Homo sapiens: one gene and its partners. The protein of the gene in region 7 purifies or fractionates together with the protein of the main gene of each other region. This does not show direct contact. Each region holds a gene or a part of one and is shown on either strand. Other genes may lie near its edges. The genes, in order: RABL6, HCK, ILKAP, CASC3, FARS2, SLC35E1 and CHST15.

Region 1 (3,990 bases), on a different chromosome or scaffold from region 7:
ACTATAGGCACCGGCCACCACGCCCGGCTAATTTTTTGTATTTTTAGTAGAGGCAGGATTTCACCGTGTTAGCCAGGATGGTCTCAATCTCCTGACCTCGTGATCTGCCCGCCTCAGCCTCTCAAAGTGCTGGGATTACAGGCGTAAGCCACCATGCCCGGCTTTCTGGTATTTATTTTCTCAAATATTTTACAGAGCGTAACAGACCAGCAATGTGATCAAGACAGAGTCGAGGGTTTTGGGGGTGAGAGTTTCTGGGAACTGCTGCGGGTTTCCAGGAGTCTGGGCTCTCCTCCTGGGCCCTGCATTTGCTCGGAGTTGCTAGTGGTCCCGGTAGACGTGTGGGACACCCACTGGTTTTAGAATAAAAACTCGAATGAGACATTGGACCATAATGGATGAAAAAGTCAAACTCTGTCAAATATTTGAAGAGATTTATTTTTGAGCTGAATATGAGTGACCATGGCTCGTGACATAGCCCTCAGGTGACCCTGAGGACATGTGCCCAAGGTGGAGGGCACAGCTTGGTTTTATACATTTTAGACATGAGACAGTAATCAAATACATTTAAGATATATGTTGATTTGGTCCACAAAGGCGGGACAACTTGAAGTGGGGGCTTCCAGGTCGGAGGTAGTTTAAAAAAATTGTGTTTTTTTGCCGGGCGCGGTGGCTCACGCCTGTAATCTCAGCACATTGAGAGGCCGAGGCAGGCGGACAACCTGAGGCCAGGAGTTCAAGACCAGCCTGGCCAACATGTCGAAACCCCGTCTCTACTAAAACTATAAAAATTAACCGGGTGTGATGGTGGGTGCCTGTAATCCCAGCTACTCAGGAGGCTGAGGCGGGAGAATCGCTTGAGCCCAAGTGGCAGAAGTTACAGTGAGCTGAGATTGTGCCACTGCACTCCAGCCTGGGTGACAGAGTCAGACCCTGTCTCAAAAAAAAAAAAAAAAACAATTGCACCACCACACCCAGCTAATTTTGGTATTTTTTAGAGAGACAGGGTTTCACCACGTTGCCCAGCTGGGCTCAGACCCCTCTACTCAAGCAGTCCGAACCCCTTGGCCTCCCAAAGTGCTGGGATTACAGGCGTGAGCCACCGCGCCTGGCCAGATTATGTTTCTTATCAGACTTAAAGTCAGTGTTGATGTTAAATGCTGGTGAGCTTTTCCTGAATTCCAGAAGGGAGGAGGCCACAATGAGGCCTGTCTGACTCCCCTCTTCCCATAATGGCCTGAACCAGTCTTTCAGATGAAATTTGGATGGCCCTGGCCTAGAAGAGGAAGTCCATTCAGATGGTTGGCAGGCCTTGGGATTTTAATTTTGGTTTACACAATTTTGAAATTATTTGCATATAAAATTATTAGGAAAATTATTTGAAATTATTTGGAAGAAAGATTGTTGCCTGAGTTGGTCTGTCCCTTTCTACTGTGACTGGACACAAAATATCAGTTGTATTTGGTGCAGAATTTTTCTGTGGAGTTGCTCCTGAGTGAGCATTATTGTGCAGCTCTGATACTGGCCTGGCCCAGGAGCTCGGACAACCAGAGTCCTCTCTGAGTAGACACTGGTGCGAATTTAGAAATGGGACTTAGCAGGCCGGGCACGGTGGCTCACACCTGTAATCCCAGCACTTTGGGAGGCTGAGGTGGGCGGATTACATGAGGTCAGGAGTTCAAGACCAACCTGGCCAACATGATGAAACTCATCTCTACTGAAAATATGAAAATTAGCCAGGTGTGGTGGCGTATGCCTGTAATCCCAGCTACTCGGGAGGCTGAGGCAGGAGAATCGCTTGAACCCGGGAGGCAGAGGTTGCCGTGAGCCAAGATCACACCACTGCGCTCCAGCCTGGGCGACAGAGTGAGACTTCGTCTTAAAAAAAAAAGAAAAGAAAGAAAAGTTTATATGAATATCCAGTCAAAACAAACAAGGAAGGTATTACCCTTGAAATGTTGTCTATACGAATTTCCAAGGAGACCACAGGACTGTAGACTGTCTTGGAATGTCCTCAGAGAGCTCTGTCATTGATCAGGTAACGGAATAAAAACCCCAGCGTCCTTTCTTTCAAATGGGAGAGGGAAAGACAAAGGGACAGAAGCCGTTCAAACTTTGTCTTCTTTCCTTGTGGCTTGTGGTCACCTCTGCCTCCCCAGAAGCTGCCTCGCCCACCAAAGCCTTCCTGGCTTCTGCCACCACCTCATCCTCCAAAGCTTCCTCTACCTCCATCACAACCCCAAAGCCACCTTCGCCCTTAGGTTTGGCCCAGTCCAAGTTACCTTTGTTTCCCTCAATTTCACCATCTTCCGCGGCCTCCTTGGCGCTTTTGGCATCCTCCTCACTGTTGCCATCTACAGAGCCAAAGCCTTTGGGGCACCCGGTTTCCTGGTTGGTGACTACCCTTGCCCAACAAAGCTGTCGAATGACTAAAGCCTCTTCAGTGGTGTCCTCAGACAGGCCTTTGACAGACAGTTTTAGATGGCTGGCTCCTGGCATCAGGTGGTCCTTGCAACTCCAGCCTGATTGCCCTGCCCCCAGTTTCCCTTTTATTACAGGAATTTAAAGCTGCTTTATCATCTTCAAATGAAGCGAACTGTAAGTGCATGCACACCCTTTAGATTTGCCATTTTGGTTCTGGGGCACTTTGATAAAAGTTGCCTTGTCTCAGATTCTTTCTGAAGAGTTTCTTCTGTTGCACTGTAGGAGAGGTTGCTTAAACCAGAGTTTTTGATTCACCCCTCCAAGTGGTCTCTCTAGTCTTGATTTAGACCTTTCTCTCCATGATAGTGCAGGGAAATAGATCGGCCATCCATCTCTGTTCCCTGCGTTTCTTCAGAAGTTTTCTCTGCATTAGCTTCTGTCTTAACCTCAATATAAGCAGTCCCTTTACTCTTCCCATCCTTGCTGACTAATCCAATCTCCACAGCATCTTCAAACACTTTTTTGTTTTTTGAGCCAGAGTCTCGCTCTGTTGCCCAGGCTGGAGTGCAGTGGCCGTGATCTCAGCTCACTGCAAGCTCCACCTCCCAAGTTTGCGCCATTTTCCTGCCTCAGCCTCCCGAGTAGCTGGGACTACAGGCACCCGTCACCACACCCAGCTAATTTTTTGTATTTTTAGTAGAGACAGGGTTTCACCGTGTTAGCCAGGATGGTCTTGATCTCCTGACCTCGTGATCTGCCTGCCTTGGCCTCCCAAAGTGCTGGGATTACAGGTGTGAGCCACTGCGCCACTGCGCCCAGCCAAAACACTTGTAATTCATCCTGAGTGACTTTGTAAGGGAGATTTGTAGCCAAAAGTATTCTCACATCTTGCTCTTTCTTACTGTCTTTTCCTTTTGGTTTCTCTAGTTTAATTTCATTGCCAAAGTCTTTCAAACCAGCGAGTTCCAAGGCTCTTTCCAGGTCTTCAGCAGCTTGAAAATCCACATAGTCAGATTTCCTTGTCATACCCATTCTGACATCCACAACAGCAAGATCATTTTTAGCAAAAATATCATGGATACTAGTTTTTGTTTTTCTTTCTTTTTCGAGACAGGGTCTTGCTCTGTTACCCAGGCTGGAGTGCAATGGTGCTCACTGCAGCTTCCACCTCCCGGGTTCAAGTGATTCTCCTGCCTCAGCCTCCCCAGTAGCTGGGACTACAGGCACGCACCACTACGCCCGGCTAATTTTTGTATTTTTAGTAGAGACAGGGTTTCATTATGTTGGCCAGGCTGGTCTCAAACTCCTGACCTTGTGATCTGTCCACCTCAGCCTCCCAAAGTGCTGGGATTACAGGCGTGAGCCACCAGGCCTGGCCCATGGATACTAGTTTTTAACTCAGGAGCAGACTTGTTAAAGTTCAGGTTTCCAACAAAGATTGAAAGACGTTCCAGCCTGGCCAACATGGTGAAACCCCGTCTCTACTAAAAATACAAAAATTAGCCGGGTGGTAGTGGTACACGCCTGTAATCCCAGCTACTCAGGAGGCTGAAGCAGGAGAATCAC
Region 2 (3,990 bases), on a different chromosome or scaffold from region 7:
GCTACTAAGGAGGCTGAGGTGGGAGGATCACTTGATCCTGGGAGGTCGAGGTTGCAGTAAGCTATGATTACACCACTGCACTCCAGCCTGGGTGACAGAGCGAGACTGTCTCTGAGAAAACAAATCACACTTTATTGTGCAAAAATGGAACTCATGGGAATTCCCTATTTTAAAAAAAGCGAACTTCTCCAGTGTTGCAGTATCTCTAGGCTTGTGGGCCAGAGGAATTGCAAACTGTGCTTGCTTCATGATCCGGGGCAGTGTCACGTCTGCCAGTAAACAGAAATAGTTGTGGTTAATGTTTCTGCAGCGCTTACTGCATGCTGGGCACTTTTACACTCATCAACTTGCTCAGTGCTCACCACCACCCTATGAGGTAGAACCCTTGCCACCCTTTCTCAGAGATGGCCTTGGATTGTGAATGAACACAGGTCTTCTGAGACCCCTCCCTCGGGACCCTGTGGCCATCTTGAATATGTACATTGATCACGTAAGTGAAGCATACAAGGTGCTCAACGCGCATGGATTGGAAATCACAAGACTCACAGCTGCAGATCAGTGGGTGCCCAGAGAGGTAGAGTGAGCTGCCCTACCTCACACAGTGCTGCTCTTCCCAGAACATCTTTATGCTGACCAAAACACACGAAATGTGATATAATTTTATGTCATATATGTCACACAAGATGCCCGTTTAATTTCCCAGAACTGTAATACACATTTATCTCAAAGAGAGATGCTGGTTTCAGTTTTAAATGCATGCAAGTACATTATAAATCTGTGCTTAATTATGATAATTTTTCAAATTAATGATCCAGCACTCCAAGAGTCTGAATGTGTTCCTTATTTTATTTCCAAAAGACAAACAAAGCAAAACCGCTCAAGTCTTGAGGTGGCAAATCTTTCCCAGTTCCCACCAGAAGAGGTAAATCCTTGTAAATAAAAGGAATCTTTTTTCATTTTTAAAAGTAACTCATCTAAGCCTAGGAGTTTGGGGTTTTTTTCCTTAAACCACAAATACATGTTTATTTTAACAAGATAAGTATAACTGAGTTCTAACTGCTTTAGAAGAAAATGGCAATTGTGCAGAGATGAGAAAAGCAAGCACTTCCTTATGTGGTTGTCACAGCCTGCCTTCTCAGCAAATGTGTGTGCACATTTTGAGAAAAGAAATGAAACATTTCTTCCACTTTTACAATTATGTTTTGACTCTACTTGGAGTAAATGTGTTTTGTTTAAGCATCCTTAAATTAATTCAATACAGCAGCAAAGTCTGCAAGCTCTACCTCCAAAATGTCCCCCAAACCTGTCCAATGCTTACCTCCTCTCTGCCCCCACACTACCCTGGGCCACCATCATCTCATACCTGAACAATTTTGGCAGATTTCTCACAGGGTTCCCTCCCCTGCTCCCCACTGTCCACGCCTCACTCAGCCACCGGTGGGATTATTTAAAGTGCAAATTGAATCCCATCATTCTCCTGCCAGAAACTTTCCATCATCCTTAGAATAAAATCCAAAGTCCTTACTGGCCCTACAGGATATGGTGGCCTTGTCACAACCACCCTCTTCCCTGCCCATGAGCTTCAGCTACACTCTCCTGCTTTCAGTGCCTCCAACTTCTCTCTAAGCACATGCCAGCCTCAGGGCCTTTGCATTTGCTGTTCCCTCTGCCTGGAACACTCTTCCCTCAGAGTGTCCCCTCACTGGCTCCTTTGTGTCATTTAGACCGCAGGTTCTGTATCCCTTTCTCTGACAGGCCTTCCCCAAATGCCCTGCCTAAAAGAGCCAGACCTGTTGTTCCCCACAGCATCCTCTCTTATTGTCCTCACACTTTTCATTAACTCAATTTGCCCTGTTATTTATTTGTTGGCCTGTTTATTGTCTCTGTCTCCCATTCGGCTGCAGTTGAGGTCCTGAGGGCGTGAACTTGCTTCTCTTCTTCACAGTTTAGAAAAGTGCCCAGTAAATCTTGGCTGTGTAAATGGATGAATGAATTACCAAACAACTCAGAGAGAGACAGAGAGAAAGAGAGGAGGAAGAGGAAGAGGAAGAAGACGAAGAAAGAGGAGGAGGAGGGAGGACAGAGGAGGGGGAAGGAGGAGGAGGGGAAGGAGGAGGAGGGGGAAGGAAGAGGAGGGGGAGCAGGAAGGAAGGGAGGGAGGGAGGGAGGGAAGGAGTTATAAGCAATTTATAAATTGATACCAGTAATACGGTGCCTTGACAAACTAGATTGTTTGAGCCATGTTATGTGACCTCATCTTGTTATTTAATATAAAAATGGCAATTTATCATCTGATAATACTGCAGTTTTTCTGTAGTGTTTGCTCTGAGCCTGACACTGCACTGAGTATTTCCCCACTGTAGGTCATATTATTGTCCCCATTTTGCCGATGAAGACCTGAGAGGTGGGTAGGGGCAGGAAAGTGGTCAGTGAGGTGCTGGTGGGGTGGAGGGGCCAAGGATCAGCTGAGGCTTTCTGACCTGAGAGCTGGCAGTGCCCACCCAACAGCTCTACCTGTTACATTTCTGTTATCCTCATGCCATCCTCTGAATAAACATCCATCACGCTGGTCCTTGGTACCCACGACAATGACAGCTTGTCAGCCCTGGGCCAGTGCTGTGGCACGTGGACATGGGGAAGCCCAGAGGTGGCAAGGATGGAGTGGGTTCCATGTGGGGAGGATAAGGGTGCATGGAGCTGGCAGGGGAGTTAAGACCGGGAAGGCCAGTGGGAGCCAGCCCGGGGGCAGGGGACCTGGAATGCCAGCATCAGAAGACTTCCCCGCATGAGGCTCTTGGTAACTGGGGCTCACCTCCCTTCTGTCTGCTGCAGGATGGGGTGCATGAAGTCCAAGTTCCTCCAGGTCGGAGGCAATACATTCTCAAAAACTGAAACCAGCGCCAGCCCACACTGTCCTGTGTACGTGCCGGATCCCACATCCACCATCAAGCCGGTGAGTAGGGGAGGTCCCAGTTTCCCTGGGGGCTGACGGATGCTGCCCCAACATTGCCCTAACAGCCTCCTGTCTTCCCAAGGTTGGGCAGGGTGAGCTTGGGGTGAAAGGGAGCTGACTGGCCACCAACAGTGTCCTGACTCGACTCTCCGGGACGCAGCGCCAGCCAGCATGCATAGGGGCAAAGAAGTCATCTCTCTTTCCTGCAGCCCAGGCTTGGCCCCTCAGCCTGAGCTCCACCAAACAGGTGTGAGTGAGCATCTCAGGCCTCCGGCCTGGGCAGAAGCAAAAGCAGTGCTGAGAAACGAGTGAACAGTAATGATAGCAGCTGAAGTGACAATGTAATGGTAGTATCAGCAGCATTGCAAAAATACAGTAACAATTGTCATACTAATAGTACCAACCATAATTGCGTGAGTATAAGACCAAGAGTAGCAGCAGGAACAACAGCAAGAGTTGTAAAAAGAGAAGCAGTCATGCTAGGAGAGGTATTTACCAACTTCTTTTATGTTTATACAAAGCTGACTATGAACCCAGCACTGTTGTAAGCCTTTACGGTTATTAACACCCTAATCCTCACAATAATCCTATTGTGTGACACACAAATACATTCTTCTTGAAAATAAAAACACAGGCCAGGTGCAGTGGCTCACACTTGTACTCCCAGCATTTTGGGAGGCTGAGGCAGGAGGATTACTTGAGCCCAGGAGTTCGAACTGCATGAGCTATGATCACGCCACTGCACTCCAGCCTGGGCAATACAGGGAGACCCTGTCTCTTTAAAAAAAAAAAAAAAAAAAAAAAAAAAGAGCTGCTTAGAATGCCATAGTTTAGGTGTCACTTCCCCCTTGCATGGACACTTAGATTGTTTCACATACATAACAGAGCCTTTATTTATGGAATATAAATCACTGGTGGGCCTGTGATTTCTCCAAACTTAGTCGGAAAACACTGATCTGGACCGACCCCTTCACTGTGTGTTGAGGGGAGGGGTCAAGCAGCATCCCCCGGTACATCCAAGACCGAAGGCCGAGGTC
Region 3 (3,990 bases), on a different chromosome or scaffold from region 7:
GTGGATTAATACATTGAGTAATGGTTATCCTAAATACTTTTTTTGGGTGCTGGGGACAGAGTCTGGTTTTGTCCCCCAGGCTGGAGTGCAGTGGCGCTATCTCAGCTCACCGCAACCTCCGCCTCCCAGGTTCAAGCAGTTTTCCTGCTTCAGCCTCCCAAGTAGCTGGGGCTACAGGCACCCGCCACCATGCCTAGCTAATTTTTGTATTTCTGGAGAGACAGGGTTTCACCATGTTGGTCAGGCTCATCTTGAACTGCTGACCTCAGTCCTGACCTTGACCTCCCAAAGTGCTGGGATTATAGGTGTGAGCCACCACACCTGGCCATACTAAATACTTTTTAATGGCTTTCTTCTGCTTCTTGTATACTTCTAATAGAGTCTTTATGTCACTTGTAAGAAAAGTGAAAGTATTTGCAATTCCTTAATTTGTTTAGGGTCATCCTGAAGGATTAGAATACATTTTCCCATTTGTATTAGGGATATAAAGCAAAATAGTTATTTTTTGTTAACTCAGGAATTTCTTGTGTATTTTAGGTACTTCTGACGCAAAGACCCCGGGAGAAATTTCATTCCCTTAAGTTTATAAATTTTTAATTAAAGCTTTTGTTTTTAAAAGAAGAAAGTTGATACCCAGCTCATTTCTAAATGGAGGCAAAAAGATGATAGGGATGACCCTCTTGGGGGATATAAATTTATTTGTTTAGTTGAATTGGTGTTTGGCCTGGCACAATAGCTCATACCTGTAATCCCAGCACTTTGGGAGGCTGAGGCGGGTGGACCACTTGAGGCCAGGAGTTTGAGACCAACCTGGCCAACATGGTGAAACCCCGTCTCTACTAAAAATACAAAAATTAGACCAGACATGGTGGCTCACCCCTGTAATCCCAGCGCTTTGGGAGGCTGAGGCAGGCAGAACACTTGAGGTCAGGAGTTCAAGACTAGCCTGGTCAATATGGTGAGACCATGTCTCTACTAAAAATACAAAAATTATTTGGGCATGGTGGTGTGCGCCTGTGATCTCACCTACTCAGGAGGCTGGGGCAGGAGAATAGCTTGAACCCGGGAGGTGGAGGCAGTGAGCGAAGATCACATTACTGCACTCCAGCCTGGGCAACAGAGTGAGACTCAGTCTCAAAAAAAAAAAAAAAAAAAAAAAAAGTGAATTGGTTTTTAAGTGAGTACTTTTTTTTTTTTTTTTTTTGTGACAGAGTCTCACTGTGTTGCCTAGGCTGGAGTGCAGTGGCCCAATCATGGCTCACTGAAGCCTTGGCCTCCCTGGGCTCAGGTGATCCTCCCACCTCAGCCTACTGAGTAGCTTGGACTACAGGCGCCTGCCACCACACCTGGCTAATTTTTGTATTTTTTTCATAGACATTTTTTTGCCATGTTGTCCAGGCTGGTCTCGAACTCCGGGACTCAAGCAATCCTCCCACCTCAGCCTACCGAAGTGCTGGGTTTATAGGCATGAGCCACTGCGCCTGGCGTAAATGAGCACGTTTTTATACTTGAACTCTGAGGAGCAAGAGGTGGGATAGAGCTGGTGTGTTTGGTTGGTGTGTTGAACTTTGCAGGAGGTGAACGTGTATACTTTCAACTTGGATTCTTGTGTGCCAGTTCAGATATCTAATAGCTTAAACAGAATTTCAGGAAAAAGCTGGAAAATAAGGAATGGTCGTTAAATTTTATGTGGAAAAAGATAATTGGGCATAAAACATTTAAGACATACTTTTGGAGTGTAAATCTTCACATTTTTTGTTAAAAGAGTTTCGTGACTTTCTCCTGAGGCTATCTGTCTTTGGTTACCTGAAACTCCTTTATTTTCTCCATAGCTATTTATTGAATCAGACACTGTGCTGGGGCTAGGGACACCAGGTTCCAACAGATTTTCTTCCCTTGCAGAATGTTACCGAAATAGGATTTTTATAAACCTGTAGGTCTTTGAAGGCCCCTCCTCCACCCCACCCCAAATTTCTGAACGTCTATCAGGAAGTCTCAAGTATTGTTTTCCTGGTCTAGAATCAGTTTTTTTCTTCCCAGGATTCTATTTTAAAGAAAGACTTTTAAATGTTTCATGCTTTCAATAATGAAATTATCAAGAAAATACTTGTTTTCCTCAAAATATTCAGTGGCCCTGAAGATGCCTGTTAGGGCATCAATCATTGCTTTTATGTTGACTGTAACTGTTGGAAACAGATGTCCATATTAAAAAAGCTGTTAAGAAAATATGTTTTAAAAATTTGCCCAACAGGAAGGAGAAAATTAGAATCTAATAGCAAACTTGTGTCAAAGCAGGGGAGACCACATGATCTTCCTCTTTGAAAATCTGTCCTGGGTGATGACCATATGCTCTCTAAACAGGTTTTCTGTGTTTTAGGGAAAGAAGCTCAGAAAGGACCCCTGCTCTTTGATGACCTCCCTCCGGCCAGCAGTACTGACTCAGGTACAGTCTTCAGGCTCTCCCAGGTGTGTGTCAACGTCTCTACTCATCCTGGGATTGTAGTTGTCTCAATCTTTTTCCCTTTCCCCCATTTTCAACACACAGATGTTTTAGGTGTTGGACTGTCTTTAAGTTTTGAATCCATGGCATCAGGTAAGGCAGAAAAATCTGCTAGTCGCTAGCCCTGAGAAGTACTGCGAGGAAATGTGGAGCAGTTTTCTCTGGTTCATTTGAGTATTTATTTTACTACCTGAAGTACAATTTAACTTTTTAAGGCAGATTTTTATTTCCTTTGAAATAATAGGACTTTAAAATAGGTTCAAGATATTATTCATTGCAGTATGAGTTGCCACTGGATTGACGCAAAGTTTTGAGTTTATTTCAGTAACCTACATAGGTGTCCTGGTGGGATGGATTCTGAAACTTAAGTCTTACATATTTTTTGTGGGCTCACTAAGTGTTCTGCTGTGTTTCAGGATCAGGGGGACCTTTGCTTTTTGATGATCTCCCACCCGCTAGCAGTGGCGATTCAGGTAAGTGGTAGGAAAAATCCAAGGTGCTGATGGAAATAATACATAGTATTTTACTCTTATGTGAAATTTATGTATAGGTTTTAACGGGATTTTGGATGACATTAAGTCATAATACAGCATAAGGTTTACTAAAACTATAAACAGGCACATTAATTGGAAGCACAAAGATAATACTGTATCACTTTCTGGTGATATTAACTTCTTGAGGTTCAGATTGTTGGAACTGCCTTTAAGAATTAAGAGTTCACTAATTTACTCTTAACTTTGTTATTAACATTTTTTAAAAATTCAGAGTTCATTATTCCGATTTGCCTTGTTAAACAGAGTGCTTGACTCAAATGTATCGAGGCTAGTAGCATTGGCTCTACCTCCTCCTGAAAATGTTCCTTTTCATGTCCTAATTAAGTAGAAGGGAAGAATAGAGCAGATTCCTGTTGCCATTGCGGCAAAGGTATGATTCTGTCTCATGAGAACTTCTTAGGTAGAGCTCCTCTGGTTGGGGAAGGTGAGGGTTAGGAGAGGTTGGGAGATAGATGGTGTGGGGGCAGTGGGGAATGCAGGTAATCCCATTTCGTATGCAGGTATATTTTCTATATTTTAGGAAAAGTACTCCAGTCATCTTATATAAGAATTCTCAATCTTCAGGGCTGTAGACCCATACCAAAAAATTGCAGCATCCTCACACTCACAGTGTGGCCTGAAACCTTCCCAATAAAGATAGTACCCTTAGTTGTAATGAAAGTTAATATGTTCTGGCTGGGCGTGGTGGCTCACGCCTATAATCCCAGCACTTTGGGAAGCCAAGGCGGGTAGATCACTTGAGGTCAGGAGTTCAAGACCAGCCTGGCCAACATGGCGAAACCCTGTCTCTACTAAAAATACAAAAATTAGCCAGGCATGGTGGCATGTGCCTGTCGTCCCAGCTACTCAGGAGGCAGAGGCAGGAGAGTCGCTTGAACCCAGGAGGCAGAGGTTGCAGTGAGCTGAGATCACGCCATTGCACTCCAGCCTGGGTGA
Region 4 (3,990 bases), on a different chromosome or scaffold from region 7:
TGGTGTCTGACAAATGTCTACTTCTTTTTTTTTGAGACAGAGTCTCACTCTTTTGCCCAGGCTGGAGTGCAGTGGCGCGATTTTGGCTCACTGCAACCTTCGCCTCCCAGGTTCAAGTGATTCTCCTGCCTCAGCCTCCTGAGTAGCTGGGGTTACAGGCGCACACCACCACGCCCAGCTAATTTTTTTTTTTGTATTTTTATTTATTTATTTGTTTTGAGATGGAGTCTTGCTCTGTTGCCTAAGCTAGATGCAGTGGCACGATCTCGGCTCACTGTAATGTCCACCTCCGGGTTCAAGTGATTCTCCTGCCTCAGCCTCCCGAGTAGCTGGGAGTATAGGCGTGCACTACCACGCTGGGCTAATTTTTGTATTTTTAGTAGAGACCGGGTTTCACCATGTTGGCCAGGATGGTCTTGATCTCTTGACCTTGTGATCCTCCCACCTTGGCTTCCCAAAGTGCCGGGATTACAGGTGTGAGCCACAGCCACCGTGCCTGGCCTTTTTTTTTTTTTTTTTTTTTTTGTGACAGAGACTTGCTCTGTTGCCCAGGCTGGAGTGCAGTGGCACGATCTTGGCTCACTACAACCTCTGCGTCCAGGGCTCAAACAATTCTCCTGCCTCAGCCTCCTGAGTAGCTGGGATTACAGGCTCTCACCACCACACCTGGCTAATTTTTTTTTTTTTTTTTTGAGACAGAGTCTCACTGTTGCCCAGGCTGGAGTGCAGTGGTGTGATCTCGGCTCACTGCAAGCTCTGCCTCCTGGGTTCACGCCATTCTCCTGCCTCAGCCTCCTGAATAGCTGGGACTACAGGCGCCCACCACCGCGACTGGCTAGTTTTTTTTTTTGTATTTTTAGTAGAGACGGTTTCACCGTGTTAGCCAGGATGGTCTCGATCTCCTGACCTCGTGATCCGCCCACCTTGGCCTCCCAGAGTGCTGGGATTACAGGCATGAGCCACCGTGCCTGGCCCACACCTAATTTTTGTATTTTTCATAGAGATGGGGTTTCATTATGTTGGCCAGGCTGGTCTCGAACTCCTGACCTTAAGTGATCGACCCATCTTGGCCTCCCAGAGTGCTGGGATTACAGGCGTGAGCCACTGTGCCAGCCCCAGCTAATTTTTAAAAAATTTTTTGTAGTGATGGGTCTTGCTATATTGCCCAGGCTAATCTTGAACTCCTGGGCTCAAGAGATCCTCCTAAAGCGCTGGGATTACAGATGGAAGACACTGCACCTGCCCGGTCATCATTGAGCCTCCTGAGTACAGGATCATTTTCCACAAAAAGTAGAAGAAGACAACGTTATTATTTGAACTAATGGTTAAATATTTGAAGGCAGAAATTTATTCAGTTGAATTTTGATCAAGATCTTCTCTAATATATTTGAAAGGCAAGCCTCCCTTATTTCCTTAATCTTCTAGAGACAGATTGCCCAATAGAACTTTGTGTAATGATTGTACTTTTGTGTTTTTGTTGTTGTTGTGTTTACATAGATATAGTTTTTTTTTTTGTTTTTTTTTTTTTTTAGATGGGTCCCACTTTGTCACCCAGGCTAGAGTCTGGAGTGCAGTAGCGTGACCTTGGCTCACTGCAACCTCCGCCTCCAGGGCTCAAGCAATCCTCCCATCTCAGCCTCCTCAGTAGCTAAGATCATAAGCACACATCATTACACCTGGCTGATTTTTTTTATTTTTTGAAAAGACGGGGGGTCTCACTGTGTTTTCCAGGCTGGTCTTGAACTCCTGGGCTCAAGCAGTCTTACCTCTGCCACCCAGAGTGCTGGGCTTATAAGCATGAGCCACTGCATCCAGCCGGAATTGAACTTTTAATTAATTGAAACTTAAGTGTCCACATTTGGTTAGTGGATATCATATTGGGCAGCATAGTTTTAGAGAGTAAGACCTACCTATTACCCATTTTGCCTATTGTGGTTTGTTTTTCTCCAGCCAGATAGATCAAAGGATCTTCCCTTAGTCTGAAATCTAACTTAAATATTGGAACTCCTCAATTGGAGTTGCAGCACCCTTCTTACTATTGGAGGACAATCTCTAGAACATTCCTTTTTGTCTTGAGTCATTTTAGCCAGAGGAGAATCTCCTTTCAAACTTCCAACCCAGACCCCTGTGAATGGATATAATCAAGTAGATTTACAAAGCATCCCTCCCTTGTCCAGCTGTTGCTCAGAAACTCTTGGGCTGAGATTTTTCAATATGTTGGATAATGTAATGTGCTAATTATAATCTCTCAGGGATTCTATGCAGGGAACAATTTGATAGGAAAAAATTTGAATTTGATTTTCTTCACTGAAGTCATTTTATTTTTCATTTTCAAGGGCTTTATTGCTATATTAAGATGGCAGACAGTGGGGACAAATTTCTAAATGCTGGTGTTGACAGAAAGCAGAGATAGTTTATAGAGAATTTTATTAGTTAAAAGAAAAAAGGCATTCCTTATGTTGACACTTAAACCTGTCTCTTGATAGTATCTTTGAGTCCCACTCACGTATGTCTGATCTGCAGAAGTGACTTTTTTGGTGTATTACAGGTATGCCCAACCATATACACATGGGAGCAGGACCTCCACCTCAGTTTAACCGGATGGAAGAAATGGTACAGAAGGGGAAAGGGGTAGATGGGGGAGGGAGCTGCCTGTTACACAGCTTGTTCATTGTTTAAACCAAGATAAGGTCTTTTTTTTTTTTCTTTTCTTTCTTTCTTTTTTTTTGAGACAGAGTCTCGCTCTGTTGCCCAGGCTAGAGTGCAGTGACGGGATCACGGCTCACTGCAAGCTCTGCCTCCTGGGTCCCAGTTCAAGCAATTCTGCCTCAGCCTCCCGAGTAGCTGGCATTACAGGCACGTGCCATCATGCCCAGCTAATTTTTGTATTTTTAGTAAAGACAGGGTTTCACCATGTTGGCCAGGCTGGTCCTGACTCCTGACCTCATGATCCACCCACCCTGGCCTCCCAAAGTATTGGGATTACAGGCATGAGCCACCACGCCCGGCCAAGATAAAGTCAGTTTTTCCATTGATTATGCATGTTTCTTTTAATTTGGATCTCCTAAATGTAAGGTAGAAGGTTTAGGTTCAAATCTTGATATCTTTTCATTATTTTTCAGCTCACTTTGCAAATATCCATTAAATACCTGCCATGTACCAAGTGTTTTTCAACACCTAAAGGAAGGTAGGACTTGATATGAGAGCCCTCTAGAATTCTTATTGTTTAGGCCTCTTTCTTTGTCTCAGGGTGTCCAGGGTGGTCGAGCCAAACGCTATTCATCCCAGCGGCAAAGACCTGTGCCAGAGCCCCCCGCCCCTCCAGTGCATATCAGTATCATGGAGGGACATTACTATGATCCACGTGAGTTTTTTCTTACTGTTGGGGTACTTTTCTTGGCAGGGTGAAGTGAAGTAAGATACCAGGCTCCTGGCTCCTGAATTTCTCTTCTGACCTCTTATAGTGGTTATCAAACATTGTCTGGTTGCTGTTTTCTTCGCATGGAATATTGAGAACATCTTTTAAAGGGCTTGGGGAACAAGGAGACTTGTCCATGTGAAGAGTAAGGGTTTATGAGAGTCCCAATGTGATATCTTACAGTGCAGTTCCAGGGACCAATCTATACCCATGGTGACAGCCCTGCCCCGCTGCCTCCACAGGGCATGCTTGTGCAGCCAGGAATGAACCTTCCCCACCCAGGTAAGCTTTGTGTCTCTGCTTATATGCTTCCAGTACCTGAGGATATATGTTGGGAGTGCCACAAAACCCATCCTCCTGAGCTTTGTGCTGCTAGCCTGGGAGTCTGGCCATCCTGGCTGCTTGGGCAACAAGTTCCTCTTGTGTCCATCCTGAGGACTTCCATTCTGAGCCTGATTATACTGAGCAGTCCAGCCGGGCCATCCTGTGAAAATGATGTTACTTTATTTTTCAGTTTTTTTCTTCTCCTTATCCAGGTTTACATCCCCACCAGACACCAGCTCCTCTGCCCA
Region 5 (4,061 bases), on a different chromosome or scaffold from region 7:
TCCTTATAGAGGCCTTTTTCTGAGCACATAGAAATAGGAAAACAGATTTTTCCCCATCCATCTTCAATTGGCAATAACTTTTAGAGGTGCCATATTACCAGCTCTTCTGCTAGGAGGGACCAGAGTGAAACAGTGAAAAAACACAATGTGATAATAATTGCCACAATGATACTTTCACCTCACACCCAATTAGCACTTTATAATTTGCAGAGTCCTGTCAATTTCTAAACAGGCCCTGATTTCTCCATATCTTCTCCAATACTTGTTATTTTCCTTTTGTTTTTAAAATGAGCATCCTAATGGGCCTGAAGTGGTATCTCATGGTGGTTTTGATTTGCATTTCCCTGATGGCTGAAGTTGAACATTTTTTCATGTGCTTGTTGGCCATTTGTTTATCTTTGCAGAAATGTCTATTCAGATCTTTGGTACATTTGTTTTACTATGTTGTTGGCTATTTTATCGTTGAGTTGTAAGAGTTCTTTGTATATTCTAGATACAAATCCCTTATCAGGTATATGACTTGCAAATATCTTCTCCCATTCTGTGTGTTCCTTTTTGACTTTCTTGATTGTATGCCTTGAATTAAAAAAAATGCCTAATTTTGATGAATTCCAAGTTTATCATTTTTTTTAATTTTTTCACCTGTGCTTTTGGTGTCATCTAAGGAGGTTTTGCCTATGCGGTCATGAATATTTACTCATCTGTTTTCTTCTAAGAGTGATAATAGTTTCAGCTCTTATATTGAGATATATGATATATTTTGAGTTAGTTTGTGTGTGTGTGGTGTGAGGTAGGGATTCAGCTTCATTCTTTTGCATGTGGATATCCAGTTGTCTCAGTATCAATTGTTGAAAAGACATTTCCCCCTTGGATAGTCTTGGTGCTCTTGTCAAAAACCAAATAACTGTAAATGGAGCAATTGTAGTTTGAATGGAATGGGTCAGCACTTGGTGGCAGCAGGGGTCTTGGCTATGTAGTTTCATAAGCTCCCACTCCTGGAGAGCCTCTGTTTTCCTCTCAAAGCCAGGTTTTTCTGTCTCGCTGCGTTTTGGTGCCTGAAAGGCTTGGGTGGGCATGGTACCTGGAGTACTGTTGTTCGGAGCACAAAGTGAGGAGAAAAGACCACTCTACTTTGTGGGAGGTCCTTGGGGCAGTTTGGGCAGCAGTGCCTCCCCCAGGAGTCAGGGTCCCCACCCCAGAGGAATGTCCACAGAGCAGAGCCATTGGCCTGAGCTGGACTGAAAAAGAAAGAGCCAGGTGGGGAGAGGATTTGATTTCTCCCTTGGTCTAAAGCAGGCAGCTGACATTGGGTGAGGGAATGGGGCAGGCCTCCATGTGCTATCGGGAATCCCCAGGAGGTCCCTACAGAAAACTTCCACCCCCAGCCCAGCTTGTTTATCACAGCCCTTCAGTGGTAACTTCCTCCTGTGGCTTGATCCAAACGGGGGCTGCATATGTGGCCAAAATGCACATAACCCTGTGAGGCACAGCATAGCAGCTTATCTTCCCTGAAAGTGGAAGGACAAAAGCAGGACAAAGATGACCAAGCCAGGGTGGGAGAGAGGGGAGGAGACACTGGAAGGGGAGGTGAAGGGGCAGACTAGGGAGGCCAGGACCAAGGCAGACTCTCATGCACCAGGCATATTCTGCCCAGCCAAGGGCTCTGGCATTCAGATGAGGGAGAGGGAGAGGAAAGAGGAGAGAATCCAGTGAGACCAATCCATGAAGTGTCGGGAGGACCCTGGAAGCAAAGGCTCTGGACTCAGGTGGCATCAATGGGACTACCAGTTTCCAGTGAATATGTGGGAGTGGCCTAGGTCCAGCTCAATCAGAAGCCCATTTGTTCAAGGCCCTGGTATTACTGAAGGCCCAGCCCTGTCTCACCTGCCAGAAAGCACGTGGCCTCTCCCTGGCTAGGCTAAGGGCTGGTTGACGGCATCATAAAAGGAATCTGCCTGGGAGCCCTCAATTTGTTTCAGTTTCCTCCCCCAAGGCCAAGAAGGGATTGGGTTGCCTCTGTTGTTGTTGCTGCTGCTGCTGCTGCTGCTGCTGCTGGGGGTTGGAAAAGAGGAATTTGTGTGACCAGATCCCCTTATTGTATAGAAGAAGAGAAATGTGAGCATTCAGAGATGGTGAGATGTCAGACACCCAGCCACACAGCCAGTGAGAGACATGTTGGGGACAGGGCCAGGCCTGCCAGTTCATGGCCCAGGGGTCTTTCTCATGAGATCAACTGACCAGTGTGTCTTAGCACCTGCCATGCAAATAGAAGGCCCTACTGCTGTCATCTCCACGTATTCCAGAATTACTCAGCTGTTCTATGCAAGCCAAGTCAACACCAATGTCATAAAGGAGAGACTAAAGTAATTCTCTACACAGCACATACACGGCATATATGGCCTGTATGCTTCCTGGACAGCCAACAGGGGTGCCGAGGGAGTGAGTCCCTCAGCCTTGCCTGGAGCCTTGCTGATACTTCAGTTTGCCTCACAAACACGGTTACCTTCCATGACATGAAGGAGGCACACGCGGGTTGACCCCTGACCCTGTCTGCTTGTTAGAATCACGTCGGGAACCGGGGACAGGCTTAGAAGCCCAGGTCCCACCTCCCACCTGCTGAATCCAAATCTCCAGAGCGTGGCCTGGGAAATCAAATTTGTCAGCTTCCTTCCCAGGGGACTTTGATACATCCACCCCAGTGGAAACCAGCAGCCTCCTTTAGTCAAGCGAATGTTTCCCTGACTGTCACCTTCTCCCCCTGTATAAGATGCAGATTGTTAGCGGTAAATGGTACCTGGATTCCAACCTCAGTTCTCCACTGCAGTTGGGGAGATCTGGCCAGGGCAAGCCACACTGCTCCTTCAGGCACAGCCTTGTTCATCCCGCACTCACCTGTGTTCTCTTCCTCTCTGTAGGACGCACAAGACCAGCCACTGCTACCGCATCACGTACCGCCACATGGAACGGACTCTGTCCCAGAGAGAGGTCAGGCACATCCACCAGGCCTTGCAGGAGGCTGCAGTCCAGCTGTTGGGTGTGGAGGGCAGGTTCTGATGTCACCACTTCACTCAGGCTGCAGCCCTCTTGGGGCTCCAGGATTTGCTGAAAGAGAAAAAGATATGGTTTGTGAACTGGGGCATCAATCATCTTTTGATAAATGGATCAGTTTTAGGACTTTCAGAAAATAAAAGATCGCTCTTGAAAAGCTGTTGACATAGCATTTGTCTTTTATTTGGGGAAAGGAGGAAGGTCTTTTCCTATTCCTTTTAGAAGTGCTTTGCCCACTGGCATTGGTGCTTAGTATGGTTAATTGGTCCCTGGGTTCCATTAAGCACCAGGCATGATTTCTTGCCTGACAGGCTCTTCCACTCAGGTAATGAGTGAAGCCACACAGAGGGACATCAGAAATTCCAGATACAATACAGGAAGCTTTTTGAATCAGCTTCCATTCCTTCCTCCCTTCTCTTCTTTTTCAGTTTTGCAAAGGGCAGGCTTCAAAGAGGGCACTAATGAAATGCCAGGGCTCTCGTCCAATGTGAAGGGAGGTGCGTCTTTCAGCCAGGGCAGGATATCTATTTGCTTTTCATAAACCCATGGCTTGGAGTCAGGCCTCTGGCCCCAGGACTTGGGCTTAGCTGCCTTCTGCCCCACTGGAGAGGAAGGAAAGGGGCGAGAGCTGCCCCAGAGTCTTGGAGGCACACAGAGGGGCCAGGTCCTCAAACTCCCTTCAAGTTTTCCCAGCAGGCAGCCTCCACTTCCAGAAGGCGACCTTTAGGGAAGAATATGGGGCTTTGATGTTCCCCCCTTTCCATCCCAGGCACTTTGTAGTCTGCCTGCCTCATTCATGACCAGTTTTAATAATCAGCTTCCATCCCTGGCATGATGCTAGAGGCTGATGGAGGGCTGCAAGTGCTGGGATAAATATTTGATGAGGAGTGGCCAGTATCAGCTAGCGGCGTGGGGGTGGGCAGCTGCTTTCCTAAGGGAAGGAACAGCTTTAATGTCATCTTACCATGTGATTAATTAGGACTCTTCCCTTGGATTTTTAAGGGAATTAAGGA
Region 6 (3,990 bases), on a different chromosome or scaffold from region 7:
TGTTGCCCAGATTGGAGTGCCGTGGTGCGATCTCAGCTTACTGCAAGCTCCGCCTCCTGGGTTCAAGCGATTCTTGCCTCAGCCTCCCGAGTAGCCGGGATTGCAGGCGCGTTCCATCACTCCTGGCTAATTTTTGTATTTTCAATACAGACAGGGTTTTACCATGTTGGCCAGGCTGGTCTCAAACTCCTGACTTCAAGTGATCTGCCCTCCTCAGCCTCCCAAAGTGAAGAGTGTTCTTTGTAGGACAGGATTGAGCCGAGAGTCAGAAGAGCTGGACACGCGGGAATGGATCCTGGTGGATCCTGGAAGTTGGGAGTTGTTTAGCCCTGCATGCCAGACCTTCTAGAAGGCTCTCTGTCACTATGTTTGCTACTCGTTCATTCAGCTAGCAGCTATTGAGTGCCTACTGAGTGCTAGGCACCAGGATAAAGCAGTGAACAAGGACCTGCTCTAAGGTACACTAACGGGACCGGATGATGTAACAGACAGAGTGGGTGGAGAGGCTGGGCACGGTGGCCCACGCTTGTAATCCCAGCACTTTGGGAGGCCAAGGTGGGCAGATCACGAGGTCAAGAGATCGAGACCATCCTGGCCAACATGGCAAAACCCCATCTTTACTAAAAATACAAAAATTAGTTGGGCGTGGTGGTAGGCACCTGTAGTCCCAGCTACTCAGAAAGCTGAGGCAGAAGAATCGGTTGAACCTGGGAGGCAGAGGTTGCAGTGAGCCGAGATCATGCCACTGCATTCCATCCTGGTGACAGAGCGAGACTCCGTCTCAAAAAAAAAAAAAAAGAGTGAGTGGAGAGCTCTCTGCTGGGGAAGTCCAGGCAGTGGCCCTGGGAGCACAGCACAGGAGCCTCCCAAGGTGGAGGTGGGTTGGAGAAAGCACTCCTTGTGGAGGCAGGAGGTCACTGGGAGGAGAAGGCATCAGTGGAGTGTGCCAGCCAGGAGTAACCATACTGGAAGAGCCTGAAGTAAGAGGGAATGGGGGCTGGGCACAGTGGCTCACACCTGTAATCCCAGTACTTTGGGAGGCCAAGGTGGATGGATGACGTGGATCAGGCGTTCAAGACTAGCCTGGCTAACATGGCGAAATCCTGTCTCTACTAAAAGTACAAAAAAATTGGCCGGGCGTGGTGGCACATCCCTGTAATCCCAGCTACTGGGGAGTCTGAGGCAGGAGAATCGCTTGAACCCGGGAAGCAGAGGTTGCAGTGAGCCACGATTGTGCCACTACACTCCAGCCTGGGCGACAGAGCGAGACTTTGTCTCAAAAAAACTATTTTTTAAAAAGAGGGAATGGGGGAGCCTTATAGAGGATCAGGGCTTCAAACCCTGGTGCGTCAGTGGCAGCTGAACAGATCTGTGGAGTTAGGACCAGCCCCGGGCTGTGGCCCTGAGCAGAGGCTCTTAATGGGGGTGACGGTATGGGGATGGGGCTACCCACAAATAAGCCCTGCCCCTGGCGCTCTGATAACCACCTGCCCCCAGCCACCCACCAGAGCGTCACTGGCACAGCAAACACCACTTTCAAAGTGTTAGGTGGTATCCCTTTGCTGAGGGAGGAGAGGGGCTCTTCCCTGGGCATCTGTGGCATGTGGCCCAGCTCTAGTCTGGCCTGTGAGCCCTTCTTGATGACCTCTTCCTGCAGGTATACTTGTCACTCATCCCCATCATCAGCGGTGTCCTGCTGGCCACCGTCACCGAGTTGTCTTTTGACATGTGGGGACTCGTCAGCGCCCTCGCCGCCACGCTGTGCTTCTCGCTTCAGAACATTTTCTCCAAAAAGGTATTTGGTCACCATCAGCGGACATGCATGGGGTTTCAGGGGTGTGCGGGCAGCAAACTGGTGGCATTGGGAAAACAGGCGGAGTAGAAATTTCTTTGCTATTAGAGCAGAAAAATCTTGATTGCCATTCTGCTGATTTTCTGTTTGTCATTTTGCTTTTTAAATAGTTTGTTTTTCTGGCCGGGCGCAGTGGCTCATGCCTATAATCCCAGCACTTTGGGAGGCCAAGGCGGGCGGTTCACTTGAGGCCAGGAGTTCAACACCAGCCTGACCAATATGGCAAAACCCCATCTCTACTAAAAACATAAAAATTAGCCAGGCACGCATCTGTAATCCCAGCTACTCCAGACACTGAGGCACAAGAATTGCTTGAACCCAGGAAGCGGGGCTTGCAGTGAGCTGAGATTTTGCATCACTGCACTCCAACCTGGGCAAGAGTGAGTCTCCATCTCAAAAACAAAAAAAAGTTTTTCTATTATAAAGTTAATGTGCTCAATAAGAAAAAAATAAAGAAAAGCTCTTTTATTGAGACCAAGGCTCACTGTCGCCCAGGCTGGAGTGCAGTGGCACAATCATAGCTTACTGCAGCCTCAGTCTTCGAAGCTCAAGTGATCCTCACACCTCAGCCTCATAAAGCACTGGGATTACAGGCATTAGCCACCAGGCCTAGCTAAAAACTTCAATTTAAAACAAGATTTTAAAACTTGTTGAAGCCTAGTGCAGTGGCTCACATCTATAATCCCAGCACTTTGGGAGGCCAAGGCAGGAGGATCACTTGAGGCTAGGAGTTCGAGACCAGCCTAGGCAATAGGAATAGAGTGAGACCCCGTCTCAAAAAAAAAAATTGCTCTTAACTCCTGTGATAATCACACACTTTTCAGGTACCACAGTTAATGCAGTCTCTCTATTGGAAATACCACTTATTTCCAACTTTTCATTGTAATGTAGAAACAATCACGTGTGTGATGTTTTCCTGTCTCAGTTATTTCATTATGATAGGCTTACAGTTCTCAGGTTAGAGGGTATGAAACGTTAATCACTCTTAATATGGTTTGTCTGGTCGTATTTTAGAAAGGTTATACCAATTCAGCCTCAAACCAGTGGAATTTCAGAGTGCCTACTTCACTTCATCCTCACCAGCACTGAGTGTTACTGTTTTATTTTTGTTTTCTTTTCTCAGTCGTTTATGCGTGGAGCATGGTGCTTGTTTCAGGCCTGTGCTGTGTATGTCCTCACAAATGCACTTGCAGGTTTGGTGTCCAAGCTCAGATGTCAGGGTTAATGTCCAGTCACTGTGTTTGGGGCCTGAGTCACTGGAGCCCTTTTTGCCACATATAGTTTTAATCACCCTCTAAAGAGGCTTTCCCTTTCCAGGTCTTGCGAGATTCACGGATCCACCATCTCCGGCTGCTCAACATCCTGGGCTGCCACGCCGTCTTCTTTATGATCCCCACCTGGGTTCTGGTGGACCTCTCGGCTTTCCTGGTCAGCAGCGACTTGGTGAGTTGTACAGCACCAAGAACACGCCATTTTCTTGGCTAGTTCCAGAATAGGTGCTTTGTTGAGGAGCTGTAGCTGCATGTTAACATTGTGGTATCTTTTGGGCACCTGACAGCCAGCGCTTTCAGCAGTCAGTCCTCTGTAATGCCTCACGGTGACGATGCACGCCATCGAGGAAGTGGGTTTCCTGTGTATTTCCTTCTCTGGTGTGCTTGATCCCAGGTGCTGATAGCTGCTGTGTGTGCGCCAGTAGCGTCAAGGAAGAGAAGGTGACTCTTTCACCTCCTGACAGTATAGTCCAGATAGCACATTGACTTTTTATTTTTACTCATTTTTTATTTTAAATGTTTATTTTTTAGAGACAGAACCTCGCTCTGTTGCCAGGGCTGGAGTGCAGTGGCACAATCATGGCTCACTGCAGCCTTGACCTCAATCCGGGGCTCAAGCGATCCTCCCACAGCCTCCCGAGTAACTGGGACTGCAGGCGAATACCACCATGCCTGGCTAATTTTTTTTTGTTTGATTTTTGTTTTTTTACTGTTTTTGGAGAGACAGGGTCTCACTATGTTGCCCAGGCTGGTCCTGAACTCCTGGCGTTAAGAGATCTGCCTTGGCCTCCCAAAGTGCTGGGATTACAGATGTGAGCCACTGTGCCTTGCCAGCCCTGGAACTTTGAAAACTATGCACTGGCCAAA
Region 7 (3,990 bases):
CAGACGGCCAGCACCCACTCTAGTCAGCCGTGGATTCGTCTCCTTGCCTAAGCTCGGAGGGCAGGGGCCACATCCAGCTGGGTGAGGCGCTTTGGGGTCAGGCAGGCCTGGGTTTGTTTGGGTCCCAGCCCTGCCCTGGAGCTTCCTGGGCTGCGTGACCATGGGCAAACTCCTTAACCTCTCTAGTGTCAGCCTTCTCCCCCAGTAAAATGGGGTGGCCCACATCTCATTATGGGGTTGTGAAGATAGACGCAGAGCATGCATGCAGCACCCTGTACAGGGCATGGTGGTGGTGGCCCTCCCTACCCCCCAGCATCCACATCAGGAGTGGAAACTGAGAACATTGCAGGTACTAAACCCGGAAAGCAATCACACAGAGCCCTGGCGGGAGGAGCAGCAGCAGCTCCTGCTTTAATAGTGATCAACTCACCAACCTCTGCTCGCTGGCTCAGAACAGCACGCTGTAAGTGTCCCTGAATGAATCCAGCAGTGGTCTTGGCTGTAAGTGTCCCTGAATGAATCCAGCAGTGGTCTTGGCTGTAATCATCCAGATTTTACATAGTAGGGCCTTGCCACTGCTGGCCTCTCCTTTGTCCCTTGGGGAGAGACATGGTCACTTTCAGAGGCACTGGATTGATGGAGCCCTATGCCCCCTAACATACATTTCCCATCCCACCGCTCCTCCAGGGGTCCCAGGACCCCTGCACTGCACAGGAAAGGGGCTGAGCAGTACCCCATGAGCACGGGCCCAGTGTGAGGGGCCGCGCCGACAGCCTTCTAAAATAACCGCAGCACAGAAGGCCTGGAATGCATTTGGACTTATATTTGGAATTGTCGTTGGAAACAGTCCTGGCCAAATGTAATACCCATCTGTTCGGGATGGTTTGAGAGTAAGAAAATGAGGTGGCTCAGCTGGAGGGGGCTGGGCAGCCCTGAAACTCAGGGCTGGGAGGGTATGATGTCCCCTGGCCCCCACGCTATCCTGGAGCCCTCCTTCCCTCCAGCCTAGGCTGCTCCTGCCTTCTAGGACCATCCCCTCGTGTTAGCCTGCCCTGACTGGAGGTATTTCCCCTTGCCTGCAACCAGGCTTTCTTCCCGAACCTTCTGCCCGCTGGTCAGTCCTTCAGGAGTTCGGGACTGGGCTCCTTCCTGCTGAGTTTTTGCATCTCCAGGGAGAGCAGCCAGGTTTGGTGCCCAGCACTGAAAGCAAGCATCCGCTGAGGCCGTGAGCTGCCTGTCGCCTGGCTCCACCCTCCCACATTCCTCATGCCGTGCCCCTGTTAATGCATCCTGGGGTTGCATCCGTGCCCCTGCAGTTCTGTGATGATTGATCGTGAGCTGTGTGTTTTCCATTACATTGGTCTCCTTCCCCCACTTCCTCATGGGATAGTGGATTTTGAAGACTAAAAGGTAGACATTTCAGTTTGTTTCTGTACGTTTCATCTTGTTCCACAGTGTGCCTGTCTGGCCTTTTGACGTCCAGTGGATACTTGTTCTTGATATGTTTGCTGTTCTCAGCATTTTCTGAGTGGCTTTAACCTATCCGAGTGGCTTTCCCCCACCCAAGATTATTAACTCACTCTTTTCCCCTGGAGAGTAGTCAAGGGGGAAATGATAGCTTTGTTACTTGAAGACAATCTTAGGAAGCATTCGCTTAATTCTTGGGGAGAACCCAAAGAGTGCTCCCCCGTCTCAGTGCTCCCCTGTCTGAGTGCTCCCCTGAAGGGAAGTGCTCCTGTCCGCATTTGCCTTCCTTCATGCTTCCTTCTGGGAAATGTGGCCACATGACCCCAGTCCTCCCCTACCCTCAGGGCCACTGTTCCAGGGTCTCAGGGTGGCAGAGAAGTATTGGCAAAAATAACTCCTTGGAGTAATTGGTCTTCCTTAGAATTGGGGTTTAAAATCTGTCTGGTTTCCTAGGGCAGTCATAATAAATCACCACAAACTTGGCTTCTTAAAACAACAGAAATGTAGTCTCTTATGATTCTGGAGGCCAGAAGTCCTAAATCAAGATGTCTGCAGGGTTGGTTCCCTCTGGTGGCCCTAAGGGATAAAAGCCGTCCCCTGCTCCCAGCTCTTGGTGGCCTCCAGCAGTCCTTGGCGTTCCTTGGCTCATAGACGCCGCACTCCAGGCTCTGTCTCCGTCTTTCTGTGGTGCTGTCTGTCCTCTCCTCTTTTTATAAGGACACCTGCCATTGGATTTGGGACCACCGTAAATCCAGGAGGATCTCGTCTTAAGATCCTACACTTAATGACATCTGCAAAGACCCTATTTCCAAGAAAGGTCACATTCACAGGGGCTGGGCTTCAGACTTGGACATAATTCTTTGGTGTCCACTATCCATCCAACTACGGAATCCAGATGGTGGCCATGGCTTGTGGTGAATCTAGTCCCTGTTCAGATGTCTGTGACACAGCAGGATGCCAGGGACCCAGCATAGTTTCTCGCAGTGGGGTTCGAGGGGCTCCCAAAGCCCACTGCCAGTTCTCTGAGCAGATCCAAAGTACCCAGAGGTGACTGAGAGGCCAAAGGAGTCTCTTTTCATCCAGCCGAGGAAGGAGCGTGGCCTGGCTCTCAAAGGCTGTACATGTGACTCACAGGAAGTGAGGTAGTGAGTTCACTTTAACCCACCTCAAACAGATGAAAATCAGCCGTTTCACCTGCTAGGGGTGGGCTTGCCTGGTTGGAACAGTAGGTATGTCCCAGTTTTTCCTAGGGATTACTTCTTGATCTCTGAAGAATTGTATGGAATCAGCAGATTCCTCATGAAGTGACTTTGTATTTAAAATCAAGACAAGCTTAGGTGCTTTTGTTTTATTTATGAGCCAAATATCTGCAAGAAATGTTATTACCACAAAGAAAATTCTCAGTATGGAAACCTTCAGCCAGTGTTTGGGTTTGTGTGAGGTAATTTATGTGATGGAATTCCAGTTCCACCAAACAATTTGGGTAGTTCTGTGGGCATCTTTGGTAAAAACTGGGCTTCGAATACTTATTTAACGTGGGATTTTATGACAGTTTCAGAAGCATCTGTTACTTTTCATTGACGTAGTTTCTTGGGCTGAGCCATATTATTGACAGGACTCATAGGAAATGTGTGAGCCAGGAAGGGTACCCCTCAGACCAATTGCCACCTGGCACCCCTCAGTGCACACAGCCAAACCTTGCTTGAAGGTTCACGCGTGTCTGATTTTGGCACTTATTGACCAGCCATTTAGGTCATAGTAACCATGAGCGACCCTATGGCGACAGATGCCGTGTTTCAGTTTTGATGTGTCTTCTAATTCTGAAGAAGGAAAATAGCACAGGTGATGTTGGGGACACCAGTAATAAGCTGATGTGGTGTTGTCTTGGGGAATATTCTCAGGCGAGTGTGGATCTGGGGAAATCTACTCAGTGGCCACCGAGCCCCTTTGCTGACTGTCTCTTTGGACAGTTTGGCTGGCCAGGCTGTGGTAGATGGAACACTCCTGTTCCGGTGGGTGTTTTGATTCTAGGAACTCTGTGGGTAGATCTCAAACTGCTCAAGACTTCCAAGAGGTGTCCTCTGTGGACATTGGCCGTGGATGAATTCTAGAGGGCTGTGTCAGAGGCACCCGATGTGCCAAGGTGGGCTACGGAGGTGGATAGCTTCTGGGCCTGTCCCTAAGAAATGCTGCTCCTCATATCATGACCTCAATTAGAGGGGAGGGCAGTGGAGAAGGCGCATTTGCAACAGACCCTGCTATAAGGGAGCACAGTTTTTGCAGGGTAGTATGTGGCTGAAGGTCTGGGAGCGTTTGGAAGTATGGATGGCGGCTGGGCGTGGTGGCTCACGCCCGTAATCCCAGCACTTTGGGAGGCTGAGGTGGGTGGATCACCTGAGGTCTGGAGTTCGAGACCAGCCTGGCCAACACAGTGAAACCCTGTCCCTACTAAAAATACAAAAAATCAGCTGGGTGTGATGGCAGGCGCCTATAATTCCAGCTACTCAGGAGGCTGAAGCAGGA

The links.
Region 1: the proteins of CHST15 (region 7) and RABL6 purify together in Homo sapiens (affinity purification with mass spectrometry; one large-scale study listed by BioGRID and IntAct). This does not show direct contact.
Region 2: the proteins of CHST15 (region 7) and HCK purify together in Homo sapiens (affinity purification with western blotting, with the first as the bait; one study listed by BioGRID). This does not show direct contact.
Region 3: the proteins of CHST15 (region 7) and ILKAP purify together in Homo sapiens (affinity purification with mass spectrometry; one large-scale study listed by BioGRID and IntAct). This does not show direct contact.
Region 4: the proteins of CHST15 (region 7) and CASC3 purify together in Homo sapiens (affinity purification with mass spectrometry; one large-scale study listed by BioGRID and IntAct). This does not show direct contact.
Region 5: the proteins of CHST15 (region 7) and FARS2 purify together in Homo sapiens (affinity purification with mass spectrometry; one large-scale study listed by BioGRID and IntAct). This does not show direct contact.
Region 6: the proteins of CHST15 (region 7) and SLC35E1 purify together in Homo sapiens (affinity purification with mass spectrometry; one large-scale study listed by BioGRID and IntAct). This does not show direct contact.

Annotation. Positions count from the first base shown.
Region 1 is NC_000009.12:136,810,678-136,814,667, forward strand, and holds part of RABL6 (rab-like protein 6), read left to right. Parts: intron 1-1,910; exon of another isoform or gene 1,911-2,949; intron 2,950-3,256; exon of another isoform or gene 3,257-3,498; intron 3,499-3,805; exon of another isoform or gene 3,806-3,873; intron 3,874-3,990. UniProt on the Homo sapiens protein: May enhance cellular proliferation. May reduce growth inhibitory activity of CDKN2A.
Region 2 is NC_000020.11:32,068,830-32,072,819, forward strand, and holds part of HCK (tyrosine-protein kinase HCK), read left to right. Parts: intron 1-858; exon of another isoform or gene 859-922; intron 923-2,832; coding exon 2,833-2,953; intron 2,954-3,990. UniProt on the Homo sapiens protein: Non-receptor tyrosine-protein kinase found in hematopoietic cells that transmits signals from cell surface receptors and plays an important role in the regulation of innate immune responses, including neutrophil, monocyte, macrophage and mast cell functions, phagocytosis, cell survival and proliferation, cell adhesion and migration.
Region 3 is NC_000002.12:238,193,258-238,197,247, reverse strand, and holds part of ILKAP (integrin-linked kinase-associated serine/threonine phosphatase 2C), read left to right. Parts: intron 1-2,377; coding exon 2,378-2,443; exon of another isoform or gene 2,444-2,466; intron 2,467-2,916; coding exon 2,917-2,973; intron 2,974-3,990. UniProt on the Homo sapiens protein: Protein phosphatase that may play a role in regulation of cell cycle progression via dephosphorylation of its substrates whose appropriate phosphorylation states might be crucial for cell proliferation.
Region 4 is NC_000017.11:40,164,249-40,168,238, forward strand, and holds part of CASC3 (protein CASC3), read left to right. Parts: intron 1-2,548; coding exon 2,549-2,613; intron 2,614-3,122; coding exon of another isoform or gene 3,123-3,191; exon of another isoform or gene 3,192-3,249; coding exon 3,250-3,364; intron 3,365-3,601; coding exon 3,602-3,700; intron 3,701-3,954; coding exon 3,955-3,990. UniProt on the Homo sapiens protein: Required for pre-mRNA splicing as component of the spliceosome. Core component of the splicing-dependent multiprotein exon junction complex (EJC) deposited at splice junctions on mRNAs.
Region 5 is NC_000006.12:5,768,376-5,772,436, forward strand, and holds the end of FARS2 (phenylalanine--tRNA ligase, mitochondrial), read left to right. Parts: intron 1-2,915; coding exon 2,916-3,054; 3' UTR 3,055-3,208; downstream 3,209-4,061. UniProt on the Homo sapiens protein: Is responsible for the charging of tRNA(Phe) with phenylalanine in mitochondrial translation.
Region 6 is NC_000019.10:16,565,837-16,569,826, reverse strand, and holds part of SLC35E1 (solute carrier family 35 member E1), read left to right. Parts: intron 1-1,657; coding exon 1,658-1,795; intron 1,796-3,169; coding exon 3,170-3,295; intron 3,296-3,990. UniProt on the Homo sapiens protein: Putative transporter.
Region 7 is NC_000010.11:124,023,952-124,027,941, reverse strand, and holds part of CHST15 (carbohydrate sulfotransferase 15), read left to right. Parts: intron 1-3,990. UniProt on the Homo sapiens protein: Sulfotransferase that transfers sulfate from 3'-phosphoadenosine 5'-phosphosulfate (PAPS) to the C-6 hydroxyl group of the GalNAc 4-sulfate residue of chondroitin sulfate A and forms chondroitin sulfate E containing GlcA-GalNAc(4,6-SO(4)) repeating units.